2 separate regions of the Homo sapiens genome follow, and region 1 is reported to be linked to region 2. Evidence: microRNA targets listed by miRTarBase, many of them from high-throughput screens and not tested one by one. Region 2 holds a microRNA gene; the other region holds the end of a gene's coding sequence.

Region 1 (7,336 bases), not on the chromosome of region 2:
GCTATTGTGGGACTTGTGCGTCGGGCCAAGGGATGCTCTGGGCTCTGCTGTTGGAGCAGAGGAGGGAGCTCTGCCAGGCGCGCGGGCCTTTGCCCTCTTTAGGCATTGCTCCTGCTTGGGGGTCCGTGACAGACATCAGGTTATGCCATCAAGAGCCCCACGTGAAACAACTGCCTCCAAGTGGTGCAGGCGGGAGAGGCGGCCGGAGGATGGCAGGAATAAAGAGACACCCCCCTTCCGACAGGGGCCACCTGCCGTTCTGTCGGAGGAGTTGGGTTGGCAGCCGACAAAGCTGCTGCCCGCATCCTGCCCATCCAGTAAAGGCCTCGAGCCCTCACAAGGGGGCGCCCAAGAGGACGGCCACCACCCACCCAGAAGGGCACAGGTAGAATGTGGTAGAAGTTTGATCTCACTTCAGATGGGGGGGAAAAAAAAAAAAAAAAGTCGCCTGTTCTTGCAGCTTCCCTCCCTCTTTCCTTCCTGCTCATACATTTGGAATAAATGGCCGGAGCTCTCCTGTACCCCTGCCTGTGTTAAGCGACCCTGAGAAAAGCGTGTTCTCTGCCTCTTCCAACCCACTCCGTTTCCCGTGGTTTCTGTGACTCCCCTGTTCCCAGAGGCCTACCCCAGGTGGGCAGAGCACAGGGAGAGGAAGTCCCTGAGAGCCGGACGCAGCTCGGCCCTGGCCTGCCCGCTTCTCCCTGACCACAAGACCAAGCCCGGCTGCACAAGCCCTGTCCTGTTAGAAGGGACAGTGGAGCTCCTACGTGAGAAAGTGTTGGAAGAAATGGTGAAGAGTCCACTGCCTTCTGCTGCTGAAAGCCTGACCGAGAGGGGCGTCGGCTTCAGACTGGACCCCACACTGCCCCCGGGAGCCGTCAGCCGCGCTCATCACCTTCGTCCACGTGCCAGGTGAGTGGGCGCCCGCGGCTGCCACCAGCGTCCAAGAGTCAGGGCTGAACAAAACACGTCCCCATTCATTCCCGCTGGTCACAGACCACTGAAGGAGGCCCACGAGACAGACTCACAAAGCGCGGTGAGGGCCCTTGAACGGGAGATGGTCTTGGACTCGAGAAAGACGTGTTGGCCTTTGCTGAGAAGGGGCGGTTCAGTCATGCTGTATCCAGAAAACCAGGCACACTGTGGCGGGCAGAGCACCCTGCCTGAGAGAGAAAATGGACACTGGGCCCACAGTCAGGAGAGCCAGAGCTCTCGGCATCAGAGGAGCCCCAGGGTGGAGCCACGTGACTCCATGCCGGGCTCAGTTTCCATGTGACAGAAGTGCGTTCATTAAAAAGCCCAGGGAGCAGGCATCGAGGGAGGCCTCAGTGGTGGAATCTGGTAGGTGTCGTCTCTGGTTAATCTTGCGAGAGCTCGGGCCCCTCTCAGAGAGGGCAGGAGGTTGGACGGGCCTGGCTGCCGCGGACCCTCTGAGGGCCATTGTGGAGCCGCCGGGGGAGGCAGGGGCCGCCGTGTTTGCTCGACTCCGGTGACTATTTGGATTTGCCTCATCGTCACGGGAACACTGCAGCGGGGAAGAGTTGGACTGAACGCGTGGTGACCCCAGGACGCTTCTTGGAAATTGCTTTTTAAAATAAACCCCTGACATCAGCCTGTTTTCATTTGCCTCCCTACCCAAGAAGCTGAGTTCAAAAATAAACCTCCATTCTTCCGGGTTCTCATTCATCAAGGTGCTGCTGTAGGATGTCAGAAAAGGGAAGGCTCGGCCGGCCGTCTCCACCCGCGATCTGCATCTGTTTTTAACAGCGTTCGCAGGCCAGGGCTCTTTACAGTCAAGCCGGAAGTGTTTCCTAGATTACCCTGCGGTGTTTATCTTTGACAGCCTCGTGTTCCAAGAGCCATAAATTTGCTGCTGCTTTAGGTTTCCTTGAAACTGGGCACCTCTGTGTGCAGTTGCCCCACAGGGATCACAGCTAGATTTCAGCTCTGGAGCAGCCTGCGTGCGGGGTGAGCTCCAGAGAGCCCTTGGGTACAGGGCGAGCCGGTTCCCGGGGCCTCTCCCAGGACGGCAGCCAGGCCCCCGTGAGTCTCTCACTCTTACTGGAGCTGCAAAGCCAGCTTAGAGGACGGGCCGTCGTTTGCTTCCAGCACACAGGCAGGCAGACCCAGTTCAGGTCTATGAGCCCCGTCGCGAAGCCCTGATTCTCTCCGTCTTCACGGGGATAAAAATATTCCTGTGCAGGCCTCGCCCTCCTTTTATAAACAAAACAAATCAGTGAAGCCCCAGCAATCACGGGGGTGTTTTCGTTGGCACCTCACCTAAGAGTGCCGGCCACCCACCCAGGCCTCTCCTCAGAGTCCGAAGGAGCTGCACGGGCCAGAAAGCCTCCTGGTTATCAGAACCGAGGGGCGTGGGTGCCGGTGTGTGGGGGCTGCTCAGGGATCAGGGTGCAGGCCTCCCGCGTCCGTGCGCCTTCTTACTCTCTTCCTGCTCAGACCGCTCCAGCTTGCTTTTAGAAAGCTGCACAACAGCGGGAGAACTCGGGGTTCAAGCAAGAACAGACTGCGCCTCAACTTCCGCTCTGCCGTTTCTGAGGCTCCAGCCCTTCCCAGTCCCATCTCGACAGCCACAGCCATATGGTGGGGATGCAGCCATCTGCCTTACAGGTCATTTCGAGACTCGATGATGATGTAAAAAAATTCCGTTACATAGGAAGGACCCCTTAAGCGGTGGAGTTGACTGACCCACTAGGGAAGACTTGCCTGTCCAGGTGGGCCTTGGGCAGGGCAGCCGGTCCCTCTCTCCGAGGCCTGGCCGTCCCTGCCTGGTGGGTCTGCAGAGCAGCTCCCTTGGCACTGTATGGAGACCCTCTGCGTGTAGGTGTGTCCCTGGAATGTTCTAGCCTCCCCCTTTGAACTTGGTGGGATCTAAATTTGGACTCCCAGCTTTATCACTCGTGCTTGACTAAGCCATTTTATGTTTAAGGCTTTTGGAGATTTCGTTCATCGGGGAAAGGTCTGAAGCAAATATTAACAGGTCGGCATCCCTCCCTCCTCACCCATGCTCTGGAAACGGGTGGTGGCAGAGCTCCACTCACTGTCCCGTGCCCTCAGGGTTCACACCATGGACAGGAGTCAGGATGCTGCTTCTCCCCTCTCCCCACTCTGACAATGAGTTTGGGCTTTTTGGGGAGGAAGAGAGGGAAAAGAATGAGATTTCGGAAGAGGACTGCGGGGCTGCCTGAAGAGAGATTTGCCTCAGAGGGGACACTGCTTCTCACCCCTTCATCATAGCATGGCTGTGACGTGGGAGTGTGTATTCTAGCCACTTCAGAAGGCATGTGTTAGCTTCCCCAGACTCATCGCACACACAGCAATACAGATAACATCTGTCATGACCTGAAACTATTTTTAGCTCCATGAGGCCCCGCTGACTTGGCTTACCAAGATGGGTGAGGCTCTCCGAAGAGAGGTCATCGTCAAGCTGGAAGACCCATCCTTGTGAATGCAGGGGCTTCTGACAGATGAGACGAGAAAGCAATTCAGTGGACTTTGCACGTGTTTAAAAACTGAAAGAACCGTGGCCCTGTGTGTCTTGGAAACCATCATCTCTAAATTTAATCTCAGTTCAACTTCTGCAGCACTTAAGTTTAGAAAGATTCGTGAGCTGTGACCTTCCTCGAGAAGGCAGCCCTCATTCTCTCTCCTCTGCCTTGCGTCTTTCCTGGTGACTGTCCCAAGTCACTCTTCACCACAGCACAGACAGAACCTGGGGCTAACACGGGGGAGAGGAGGGAAACCAATTTCTCTTCCTCAAAGTTGCATTTCAAAACAGTCCTTCTAACAGCTGTCTTAAAAAATTTCACTGACATCTGCAAGTTGGTAAACGCTGCGGATAAAAGGAGTTTTTTTTAGTGGTTTGCTCCTTCCCACTTCAAAACGCTTTTTTGGGACACACATCACAGCTGAGGGTCAAAGGACACGGGTACAGAGAGCGCCGAGGCTTTGGTCATAACCCCAGTGGGCTCCCACCCTCAGCATGAGCCAGGCATTCTATTTTTATCACCTCTGTTTAATCTCGCATCACTCCAGCGGTTAACCTTTTGCAGAAGATGAAGGAAATCGGAAAACAGGTCAGGCCACCTCGCAGGTGCACCAGCCAAATCCCCACAGTGAACGCCGAGTGGGGCTGACTGACTGTTCATGAATGGCCACAGCAATATTGTGTTGTCTCACATTCCCTGCCACGTCCCCTCCCCGTGAACCTGGGGTGGGGTCCTTGTCACTGCCGCCGTGGAGTGCAGGAAAGGTGACGCTCTGTGACGTGAGGCCGAGTTAGGAAAGGCCACAGAGCTTCCATCTGACCCTCCCGATGTCCACCTTAGGAGGGCAACCGCCATATTGTGAGGAAGCCCAGGTCCCTTTCTGAAAGTGACCCTCTTTTTTTCGTCTCCCCTCTTTATTCTGGCACAGTTACCTCCCAGGTCACTGTCATGCCCTTTAGAAGCCATGCAAAAGAGAAGGGTATGGATGAAGGTCCTAATGCTACATCTGAGCTTCTCTGAAATCAACACATACTTGTCCCTTTGCATTTTCCGGGACTGGGACCAGGAGCCTGCTGTCTGGCTCTGGCTGCCCTGTTTGTCGGGTTTCCTCACGGTATGGCAGCTGCCTTCCTAAGAAGATGCCCCTCCTCCATGGAGAGTCTCACGTGGGCAGGAACCAAGGCCTGAGATTCCCAGCCAAATTCCACTTGGCAGCCGTGTGAACGAACACTCCAGTCGAGCCACAGGGGCAAACCGTCTCCACCGAGCTCTGCCCAAGTTACAGATTCATGAGCTAGACTGTGGTGATTTTAAGCCACTAAGTTTTGGGTGGTTGTTTGCAGCAACAGCCACCAGGCTCCGGCTTTCACCTTCTGTTACTGCAGGGTGCTCTGCCGGCACCTTCCATTGGTCACTTTCTGAAAGGCCTAGCTCTTCATCTCCCCTCCCAGGTCACTGTTACGCCTTTTTGAAGCTACGCAAAAGAGAACGGGACGAAGATCCTAATGCTACTTCTGAGCTGCATCTTTGCTTCTCTGAAGTCAACACGGAGTGGGACCAGGACCGGGAGCCTTCAGTCGGCCTCCACCAATGTCAGATTCACAAGGAAGCCTCAGCCCACCTCACCTGCATAGCCCTTCTAGTTTTAGTTTTGTATTTTGTTTTTCTTAGAAGCCCTCCATAACCGTGTGAGCCACCCACCCACAAAAGGTCCAAGCTGCCCTGTTCTTGCCTCTCTCCAGATGAGGGTGCGCGAGCTGTGACCCCGCCCTCGTCACTCCGAAGGGATTCCGCTGTCAGAACCGGAAGTCTCTCTCCCAGAGACCCTCCACCACAGGCTGAGGGGGTACGTGTGACAATAAAAGGGTCAATTCCTCAGGAAGACACAACAATCAAATGTGCAGGGACGTAAAGGAGCTTCAAAGTGCAGGAAGCAAAATCCGGCAAAACTAAAGGGAGACAGATCAAACGCCCAGCCATGGCAATAATACCCCTCTCTCAGCAACTGACAGAACTAGACCGAAAAAAAAAGGAAAGACAGATCATCTGATCACCACCTCCAGCTACTTGGTACTGACAGCGCGGCCACCTTTGCCAAGAAACTGTCCCAAAAACATCACCACAGTTGATCTTCCCCACGGTGAGCTGTAGCCGCCTCAGGAATAAGGGGGCCTCTGCCCTCAGTGCACGTCAGACACCCTCACCTCCTGCAGTGTTTGTCAGAAGAGATGCCTGGAGAGCCCCGGTGAAGTCCGTCAGGATCAGGATGCTGTTAGCGCCACAGAACGTGACAGTGTGTGTGTGCATGTGGTTGACGCCTGAGATGATAGAGACAAAACCCCGTCACTTCCCCGTTAGGGAGGAGACTCAGCCTTGGAAGCTGGGTGGCAGTGTGGAGCCTGTGTGCCCCCGGGGTCACTCCTCATCTGAGCCAGCCTCTCCAGCTCCAGCTATAAATAACTGAAGGGCAGGCCCACAGCCTGGAAGGAGACAGGACGCACGCTGCTTCCTTCTGCCTCTGCAGGGGAGGGGGCTCTGTCCCAACCTCAGCACAGTCCGGCTTGTACTCCACGAGAAGCACCCAGGATCAGGGAGGCCTCTCCATGTGTGCAGGCCCCTGGGAGCGGCTGGCTGGGACTCAGGAGTTGAAGGAGGCGCCTGAAGACAGGTGGTCTGTGGCTTCTCCAAAGAACTTTTTTTTTTCTGGAGACAGTCTTTCTGTGTGGCCCAGACTGCAGTACAGTGGTATGATCACATCCCACTGCAGCCTCGACCTCCTAGGCTCAAGCAATCCTCCCACCTCAGCCTCCTGAATAGCTGGGAACACAGGCATGAACCACTTCATCCAGCTAATTTTTTAATTTTTCTTTTGTAGAGGCAGAGTCTCACCATGTTGCCCAGTCTGGTCTCAAACTCCTGGCCTCTCAAAGTGATGGGATGACAGGCCTGAGCCACCACCCAGGCAGACCCTTCCTCTTTATCCCTGGCAGGTCAGTAGTGGCCTCAGCTACTGGACAGTGCTGGCCAGCATCCTTAGGGAAGGAGACGTAGGGCAGCCCCTGCTGTACTAACTCTCTTCCCCATCCCAGGGACGGGGGGCCGACTCTGCTCTGGCGAGTTTTCGGGCACTCAGCTTCCTCCTCAGGGAGGAGAACTTGTCCCCCAGCACCTTGCGCAGCCCCACGCTGTCCCTGCTGCTGGGTGGGTCCTGCCTGGTGGCCGGGAGCTGGCCCGTGAACATCTCCCAGCGGTCGAGGGCGTCCACGGCTCTGTCCACCTGCACCAGGTCCTCCTCTGCCACTTCCCGCTGCAGGGCCTGGATGCACATGGCCAGCCACCGTTCATGCTCCTTGATGGCCTCCGCAGGGCCCCCAGGTGGCAGCGGAGCCTCTGAGGCTGCCAGGTAGCTCAGCCCTTCCTCTGGCCCCGAGGCGAAGGTGTGACTCCCGGCATCAGGGGTGAGGGGCTCCGACACACTGGTGCCGGGCTCCGAGTCACTCTCACAGCACATGCCCGAGTCGGCGCTGGCAGGCGGGGTGTCCTCCCACACTGACGGCTCCCCCGCCTCCTGGCTGGGCCACGTCCCCACCACCGCCTGAGTCCAGGTGTAGAGTCTCTAAGAGGGAGAAACACAGGCTGAGTTTGCTCCGTGCCAGCCCTTGTCTAGCCAGGGAACTGCCAGGAGACCTCCTTACCTAAGGGGACCCCACCGTCCTCAGTTACCCAGGGGCGGGAGTCAGGCTGGTGGTGTGAGGGCTCTTGTGACCAGCACCCTTTGAGGACTCATGTCCAGGCTGTGCCAGAGTCAGAGGTACCCACCCCCAAGAGCT
Region 2 (7,336 bases):
TTATTCTTTCAGAGGCTATTATAAATGGAATTGTTTCTTAATTTTCTTTGACATTGTTCATTTCTATGTGTCATTTTGTATTCTGCAACTTTGTTGAATTTATTTATTAGGTCTAACAGGCTTTGGTGGAGATTGTTTAGCATTTTCCATATATAAGATTATGGCATCAGGAAATCGAAATAGTTTTACTTCTATCTTTCCAATTTGGATGCCTCTTATTCTTTTTGTTTGTTTTGTTTTGTTTTGTTTGTTTTTTGAGACAGAGTCTCACTTTGTCACCAAGGCTGGAGTGCAGAGGCGTGATCTCAGCTCACTGCAACCTCTGCCTCCCGGGTTCAAGCGATTCTCCTGTTTCAGCCTTTGAGTACCTGGGGCTACAGGCATGTGCCACATGCCTGGCTAATTTTTCTATTTTTAGTAGAGACAAGGTTTCACCATGTTGCCCAGGCTGGTCTCAAACTCCTGACCTCAAGTGATCTGCCCACCTCAGCCTCCTGAAGTGCTGGGATTATAGGCGTGACCCAATGTGCCCAGTTGCCTCTTATTATTTCCTTTTCTTGTCTAATTGCTTTAGCTAGAACTTATAGCACAATATTGAGGAAAAGCAAATAAGTGGGCATCCTTGTCTTGTTCCTGATCTTGGGAACGCTTTTAGTCCTGGGACAGGTGGGAGTCAGAATATAGGACTTGTGTGTGCAGCACTAGGTCTGGGAGAGGGAGTCTGTGGCCCCTTCAGCCTCTTGCACAAGCCCTGGCATATAGATTTGGGGGCCTGGAAGTGACACAGGAGGAGCCAGCCTCGTTGACCAAAGCCCCTCCTCCCTTTCCACACCCCTGGGCCCAGTCTCCTGTGCCCCTTCCCTCCTGAAGAGTGCTCTGGCCCCACACACATTGCAGGTGCTTTTGTCCCCACAGAAGAAGAGCCGTAACGAGACATATGGCGAAGGCAGCGGCGTGGAGATCCTGGAGAACCGGCCGTACACAGATGGCCCAGGCGGCTCTGGGCAGTACACACACAAGGTGTATCATGTGGGCATGCACATTCCCAGCTGGTTCCGCTCCATCCTGCCCAAGGCAGCCCTGCGGGTGGTGGAGGAGTCTTGGAATGCCTACCCCTACACCCGAACCAGGTGCGCCTGCTTTGGCCTCCATGTGCCTCCCACCTCCACATGCCATCTGGCGGGAAGCAATCTTGTGGCATAGATCCAGGGGATGGGATCAGCCTTCAAGCAGGTTCAACAACCCATAACCCCAGGGAACCCAGGCTTTGTTCCATACAGGTGCCCCGAAGGTCACCTAGGGCAGGCACAGGCAAGAGAGGGAAGGATATACCCCTAGATGCCTCCTGACTGCCTACGTGTGGAGGCCATGAAGGCGTGAGTCAAGCGAGGGCTGTTGGAGACTCCTTTGCCATTCCAGAAGATGCAGGGAATGTAAACCCACTTCAGGCTCCCTAAGAAGGCTGAGACAGCCTTCTGGAAAGAAACTGAGGGTAGAACAGATGACCCAGAAGTCCCTTCCAACTCTGAGACCTTCAGCTGCTGTGACAGTGTTGTCCCACATCCCATGCTGAGCAGGGCTGTCCTTGGGATTCCCTGGCAGAGGGTTCTTCACTCTGTGCCCTGCAGTGTGTAGCTTATCACTGCTGAGTTGAATAGATGGGAGCTGGTCCCACAAGCTGTCTACTGCTGAGCAGGTGGGGTCCCCACAAATCTCCTGGGGCTCCCTTCCCCACGCTGGTGGGCACCTGGAGCTTGCTGAGGGATCCACGGAGCTTTTTCCTCTTCCCAGTAGTACTTTCCCCTCTAAGCTCATCTCCAGCCTAGAGAGAGGCTATTCCCCCATTGTCAGAGCTGGCTTCTTGGGAACTAGAGGTGGCATGCCCCATGGAGCACCCCAGCTTCCTCCTGCTTGGCAGTATGCTGCCATAGCTGTGCCCGTGTTCCTGCCATGCTGTGGACATTGGACATGGGGCTTCTAGAAGCCACTGAGGATACACTGTCTTCTGCTCCCCCTAAATCCTTCCCTGCCCCCATCCTGGCTGTTCTTGGGACAAAGTGGCGATCCAAGAGGTGGACAGGGCAGGCAAGTCTCGGCTACCCTCCACCCTCCTTCCATGCCCGCTCACCAGCTCCACTCCTACCCAGTGGGTCAACAGGCCCTGGCCAGGACACTGGGCCTCTCCAAGGACAGGTCCTGATGAGTGCTTTCCTTTCCGCACAGGTTCACCTGTCCTTTCGTGGAGAAATTCTCCATCGACATTGAAACCTTTTATAAAACTGATGCTGGAGAAAACCCCGACGTGTTCAACCTCTCTCCTGTGGAAAAGAACCAGCTGACAATCGGTAACCAGGAAGGGCAGAGCCCCACAGGGCTGTACTCTGGGTTTCCTACCCACAGGTCCCTCTTGTCCTGCCCCTTTTCCCCACACCTGGTAGACTCCAGACCTGGCCCTGTCCTGGGCAGGCAGGTCAGAGTTGGAGCAAGCATGGGGCCCATGGGGGAGGCAGGGCAGGCCTTCTCAGCCCCATTCTCCTGATATATACACCAAGTCCAAGTGCCTTTTCCACCCAGAGCTGCTTCCCTCCATCCCTTTGCGGGATCCCTACTCCCCAGAAGTACATATGGGCTCGGGCATCCATCTCTAGCTGACAGCCATGCACAAGTGCCCCCGGCACATAATGGGGTCTATGTCCTCTTGATGGTGGGTGCCCTACCCACTACCTCCAGATGACAGTGACATGTAGGGGATGGGCCCCATTTGTTAAATCTTCATTTTCAAGAGAAGCCAGTGATAAGGATGTTCATGAGAAATCTCCCAATACTAAATGTTAGCAACCAATTAAAAATCTTTGTAAATAAATGTATGCCAGTGAAACAAAACACATATGTGGGCCAGTGCAGCTCAGCAGCCACCCTCCTGCAGCCTCTGGGTACAAGGCCCAAGTCACTGTGGAGGCATCTCAGGCAGGGCATGCGGGTTGGGGGTGGGTGTCCATGGCCCAGGAGCTGCTCCAGGCCCAACCCCCCCACCTCTGCTGGGATTTCCTGGGTCTGCGAAACAAAGCGTCATAGCATGAGTGGCTTGCACAACACACAGTTATTCTCTCGGGGCTCTGGAGGCCAGAAGTCTGAGATCACAGCATGGTGGGTTCTTCCCCCTGGGGAAGACTCTGTTCAGGCCCCTTCAGTGTCTGCTTGCCGGCAGTCCTTGGTGCTCCTTGACTTGTAGAAGCATCCCTCCAATCTCTGCCTCGTTCGTCACATGGTCACTCCCCTCTGTGTCTGTCTACCTCTTTGTCTCCTCTTCTTATAAAAACACCAGTCATACTGGGTTAGGACCCACCTTAATGGCCTTACTTTTAACTTGATTACCTCTTTGAAAACCTTATCTCTAGATAAGATCACATTCTGAGGCACTGTGTTCAGTACGTCAGCGTAGGAATTGGGGTTGGGGTGTACATAGCTCTTCCCATAGCAGGCAGCCCTGACACTGCCAGAGCTCTGCAGGCTCCCTCTGAGGCCAGCTGCCATGGGTCCTAAGTCTCTGTGACATTTCCCATGCAGGGTCTTTGCCGGCTCACATGGGCAGGGCATATGGTCTGCTCCAGGAAGAGTGCTCATCCCTCCTGGCATTCTGTGGTCCTCAGACTTGCTCCTGACCCTGCTGATTTTGGTGGAGCTGATGTCTGTGTCTGCAGTCTGCAGCCTGGATACAGAGGGGCCCACACATTGGAGAAAATGAGGCAGCCAAGGGCCTGGCTAGAGCAGAACCGACCGCAAAAAAGGGTTCTGTGAGCCACAAACCCTTTACTGGGGCTCTTTCTCACCCAGTGAGTGCCCCAGTCCTGCCCAACACACATGTGCCTCGGGAGTGAGCACACAGGAGGGCTCTGAGATGCTGCTGTGGAGGGGAAGCCTGTGATCATAAGTGGCCTGGCCTACGTCCTGCCCAGAGCCATCACCCATCTTCTTGTCACCCTCACCAGGTCCTGTCAGCCCCTAAGCCTGTTTTCTGCACTCCTACCTCTGTGGCATCTGCCCCTGCTCTCAGGCCTAGCCTGGAGCAAGCTTGGCCAGACACCCCCTGTAGGCCTCTTCAGACATCTCTTCCGGTCTCTGTCCAGGAAGGCTTTTCCAACAGGCCAGCCTGCCTGCATCCCTCTCAGCCTCAGATCTATACCTGGGTCCACTTGGCTCTCAGGGAACTGTCCGGTCTCCTAGCTTGGAGAGAAGTGGCCGGCATGTCCAGGGCATCCCCATTGCTCTGTGACTGCTGCCATCCTTCTCCTCACGCAGACACCCTGGTGGTTCCTTCCCCAGAACCCCCCACCTCTTGTTCAAGGGCCGGTGCTGCTGGGACATTCTTGACCTCTTGATTCCACCCCTCTGGCTGAAACACCGTCTTTGTGGGAAGCTTTTCCTAGCCTTCTCTTCTGTTCCTCCCACCCTGTATTCTTCATGGAAATTCATCTCCCCAGTGTTTCCTCATTGCCTTATTTATCTGCTTTGCCAAGAGGTAGGGTGCACTCAGAACATGGGTTTTGCTGAAATGACTTGAAAAGGCAACAAGGGGCCAGGCTCGTTGGCTCATACCTGTAATCTCAGCACTTTGAGAGGCTGAGGTGGGAGGAGTGCTTGAGCCTGGGCAACATAGCAAGACCCTTATCTGAATGAATGAATGCACCAAGGAAACTGCAGGCCCCACTGTCAGGGATTTTGAGGTCAGAGCTGCCCAGAACATGATCCTCACTCCCAGGGTCCCTCTGGCAGGGCAAGGCCCAGAGTCCTGGGAGGATTTGGGGGTGGAGGAACATGGAGAGATGTGGGTGGGGGTTGAGGTCAGGGCAGAAGTGGCCACTCTAAGGGTTTACCCACAGACTTCATCGACATTGTCAAAGACCCTGTGCCCCACAACGAGTATAAGACAGAAGAGGACCCCAAGCTGTTCCAGTCAACCAAGACCCAGCGGGGGCCCCTGTCCGAGAACTGGATCGAGGAGTACAAGAAGCAGGTCTTCCCCATCATGTGCGCATACAAGCTCTGCAAGGTGGAGTTCCGCTACTGGGGCATGCAGTCCAAGATCGAGAGGTTCATCCACGACACCGGTGAGCACACCCATGCCAGGTGGGCAGTGGCTGGGCTACCCAACCCCTCTGTCTCCTGTCACCTGCCTGTCTGCCTCCTCTCTTTGCATGTCTGCCTGGGAGTCTGCGTTTCTGTTTTGTTCTGGGAAGGTGACACCAAAGCCCATGTCCAGCTTCCCCACTACCCGCCAGCCATGGGTTATCTTGAACATCCATGAATACTTACTGAGCATCTGCAGAGACAAGCAGTGTGTGTTGTTGGATGAAGAAGCCCTAGGCACTGCCCCCAGACATTCCTGACCTAGTTCGCATTTGATAAAGAGTAGCCCACACTCCACAGGTCTGAGTAGCCCCTGGGGACAGGTTCCCTGCTGCTCATCTGGGCCTCTGGGCTCCCAGGCCTTTGTTTCCTCTACTCAAGGAGGCCCAGAACCCAGGGCCACAGCTCAGCCTCCCTCACTGGGCTGGAAGCTCCCAGGAGCAGGGTGTCTCAGACATCATAGTGGCCTTCACACCCACACCAGCCTAGCCAGAGTAGGTGCCCATGGAACAGGTAGACAGCAGATGGCCTGGGGGTCCTGGTGCAGTGAGTGCCATTTCCTCACCTAGAGCCCTAAACCCCCCTCTGCCGAGGTCATAGCATGATGTCATTCCAAGAGCTGGTTCCGGTCCCTGAGGCCCATGACCCAAAAGGCACCCCAGCCAGACACCTTGTGATGCCATGAGCAAGGGTGACTTTATTTAAGATTGAACAGAGCCACACTGTTGACAGTACATATCACGCTTGTCACGTAAGCTTACGATAACCCATGAGGGTAGGCATTGTCACTCCACTTATGCAGGAGGAAGCAGAGACCCAACACTGGGGCTGAACTAGATCTGCCTCCCATCCCAGCCACCCTTGTCCTGAATTAACATCCTCCTGTTCTTAGCATCAGTAAGGGAGGTGTCTCACTAGACAGCCATGTTCAGTGTTGGGGCTGTGACCCCAAGGGAAGGGTGGATGTGTACCCGAAAGGATTGGGGTCCAAGGACGCGGTCTTCCACTTGGAGAAGCGAAGACGTGGACAGGGCCTCGATGGGTGTGTTGGTGTCACCACCTCCATCCCCAGGGCAGAACACTCAGACACATTGTCCACCATTCTTTTTCCAGAAGGGCTGCTGCGGTGTCAATCAGCAGCTGGGAGAGGTGGCAGGAAGAGAAGGAAGCTGTCCCATCCATTGAGAGGGATGCATTCCCACAATCCATCTCTCTAACCCCATGGGAGCTTAGATTGGCCCAAACCTGCCTCTCTCCATTACCCAGGGCTCACAGACTGGGACCTGCAACCCCAGTGCTGAAGCCTCAAAATGGGAATGGTGGTTCTCACTTCCCAGGCAATATGAGGAGTGGAGGAGCATGTGGGCAGGACTGGGAGGGGCTCCCCTATCCTGGGCAGGGCGTCCCCTACCGCCCTTCTCGACCTCCAGGAACCTGAACACATCAGCGCTGGTGACTCGTCCCACCCTCTCCTCAAGGCTTCTCTAGGTTCAGCCCTGCACAGGACACCCAGCAGACCTACTAAGGCTGCAGCTCCTGGCACTCTGGCTCTGTGGGTCTGCTTGGCTCTCCCTAGCCCTACCCAGCAGCTGAGATCCTGGCCAAGCTGCAGAGACTCCCCAGCTCCCTGAAAGTCAGTTCTCCCCTCAGAAAGCAGGAGCTTGTGGCTGGTGGGAAGAAAGAAGACAACTTTAGAGTCCAGGCCTGACTCACACGTAGTGGCTCTGTGGTCTCTCAGCCTCACTGAGCTTTGCTTTTCTCTTCTGTAAAATGGGTGTAATGACACCGATCCTATCGGACTGTTGTGGGCCGAGACCGTGGGTTCAGAACTGAAGATGGGGTGTGGCACATAGGTGGAGCTTGATGACAACTGTGAGTACTAGTCCTATAATATCACGGGGATGATCTCGTGAACTCATGTGAGCTACGCTGGGCTTCTTGGGGGCCTTGAGGAGGCAACTCCTGGGGGTTGGGACAGCTCTCAGCTGTCCTCATTACTGCCTGGCCCCAGATGTAGTGCATGTCCCAGCCCTTCCGGTCACCCCAGGAGGAGGCATTTCCCTATATAGGGTAGAGCAAGGGATGCGGCCCTTCCTGGCAGCCCTGTGAGGCCAGCAGACAGTCCCAGAAAAGGTAACCAAGGCTCTTCAGTGTGCCACATCTGAGGCCACCCCTGGGGCTTGGGCAGGGGACACAGGACTCCATCCCA

Evidence for each region. Region 2 holds the annotated microRNA hsa-miR-4304 (CCGGCAUGUCCAGGGCA, at 4,240-4,256, shown strand). A microRNA usually pairs through its seed, bases 2 to 8, with sites in the 3' UTR of a target mRNA and lowers its output. Matches are read on the target gene's strand: a 7mer-m8 pairs with bases 2 to 8, a 7mer-A1 pairs with bases 2 to 7 and ends in A, and an 8mer does both.
Region 1: the mRNA of AMZ1 is a reported target of hsa-miR-4304. Seed matches in the 3' UTR shown: 7mer-A1 at 3,000-3,006 and 7mer-A1 at 1,213-1,219.

The regions. Positions count from the first base shown.
Region 1 is chr7:2,712,116-2,719,451 of GRCh38, reverse strand. AMZ1 (archaelysin family metallopeptidase 1) reads right to left here. Exons shown (of 7, transcript NM_001384743.1): 7 at 1-7,122. The coding sequence ends at 6,574. Among named protein-coding and RNA genes, the nearest start is that of AMZ1, 28 kb to the right of the region's middle. RefSeq lists an enhancer at 3,826-3,875 and a silencer at 6,111-6,310.
Region 2 is chr12:123,007,622-123,014,957 of GRCh38, reverse strand. It overlaps MIR4304 (microRNA 4304), which reads left to right and starts at 4,230; the gene lies at 4,230-4,291. It overlaps PITPNM2 (phosphatidylinositol transfer protein membrane associated 2), which reads left to right. Exons shown (of 26, transcript NM_020845.3): 4 at 916-1,130; 5 at 2,224-2,345; 6 at 4,881-5,108. RefSeq lists an enhancer at 2,476-3,396.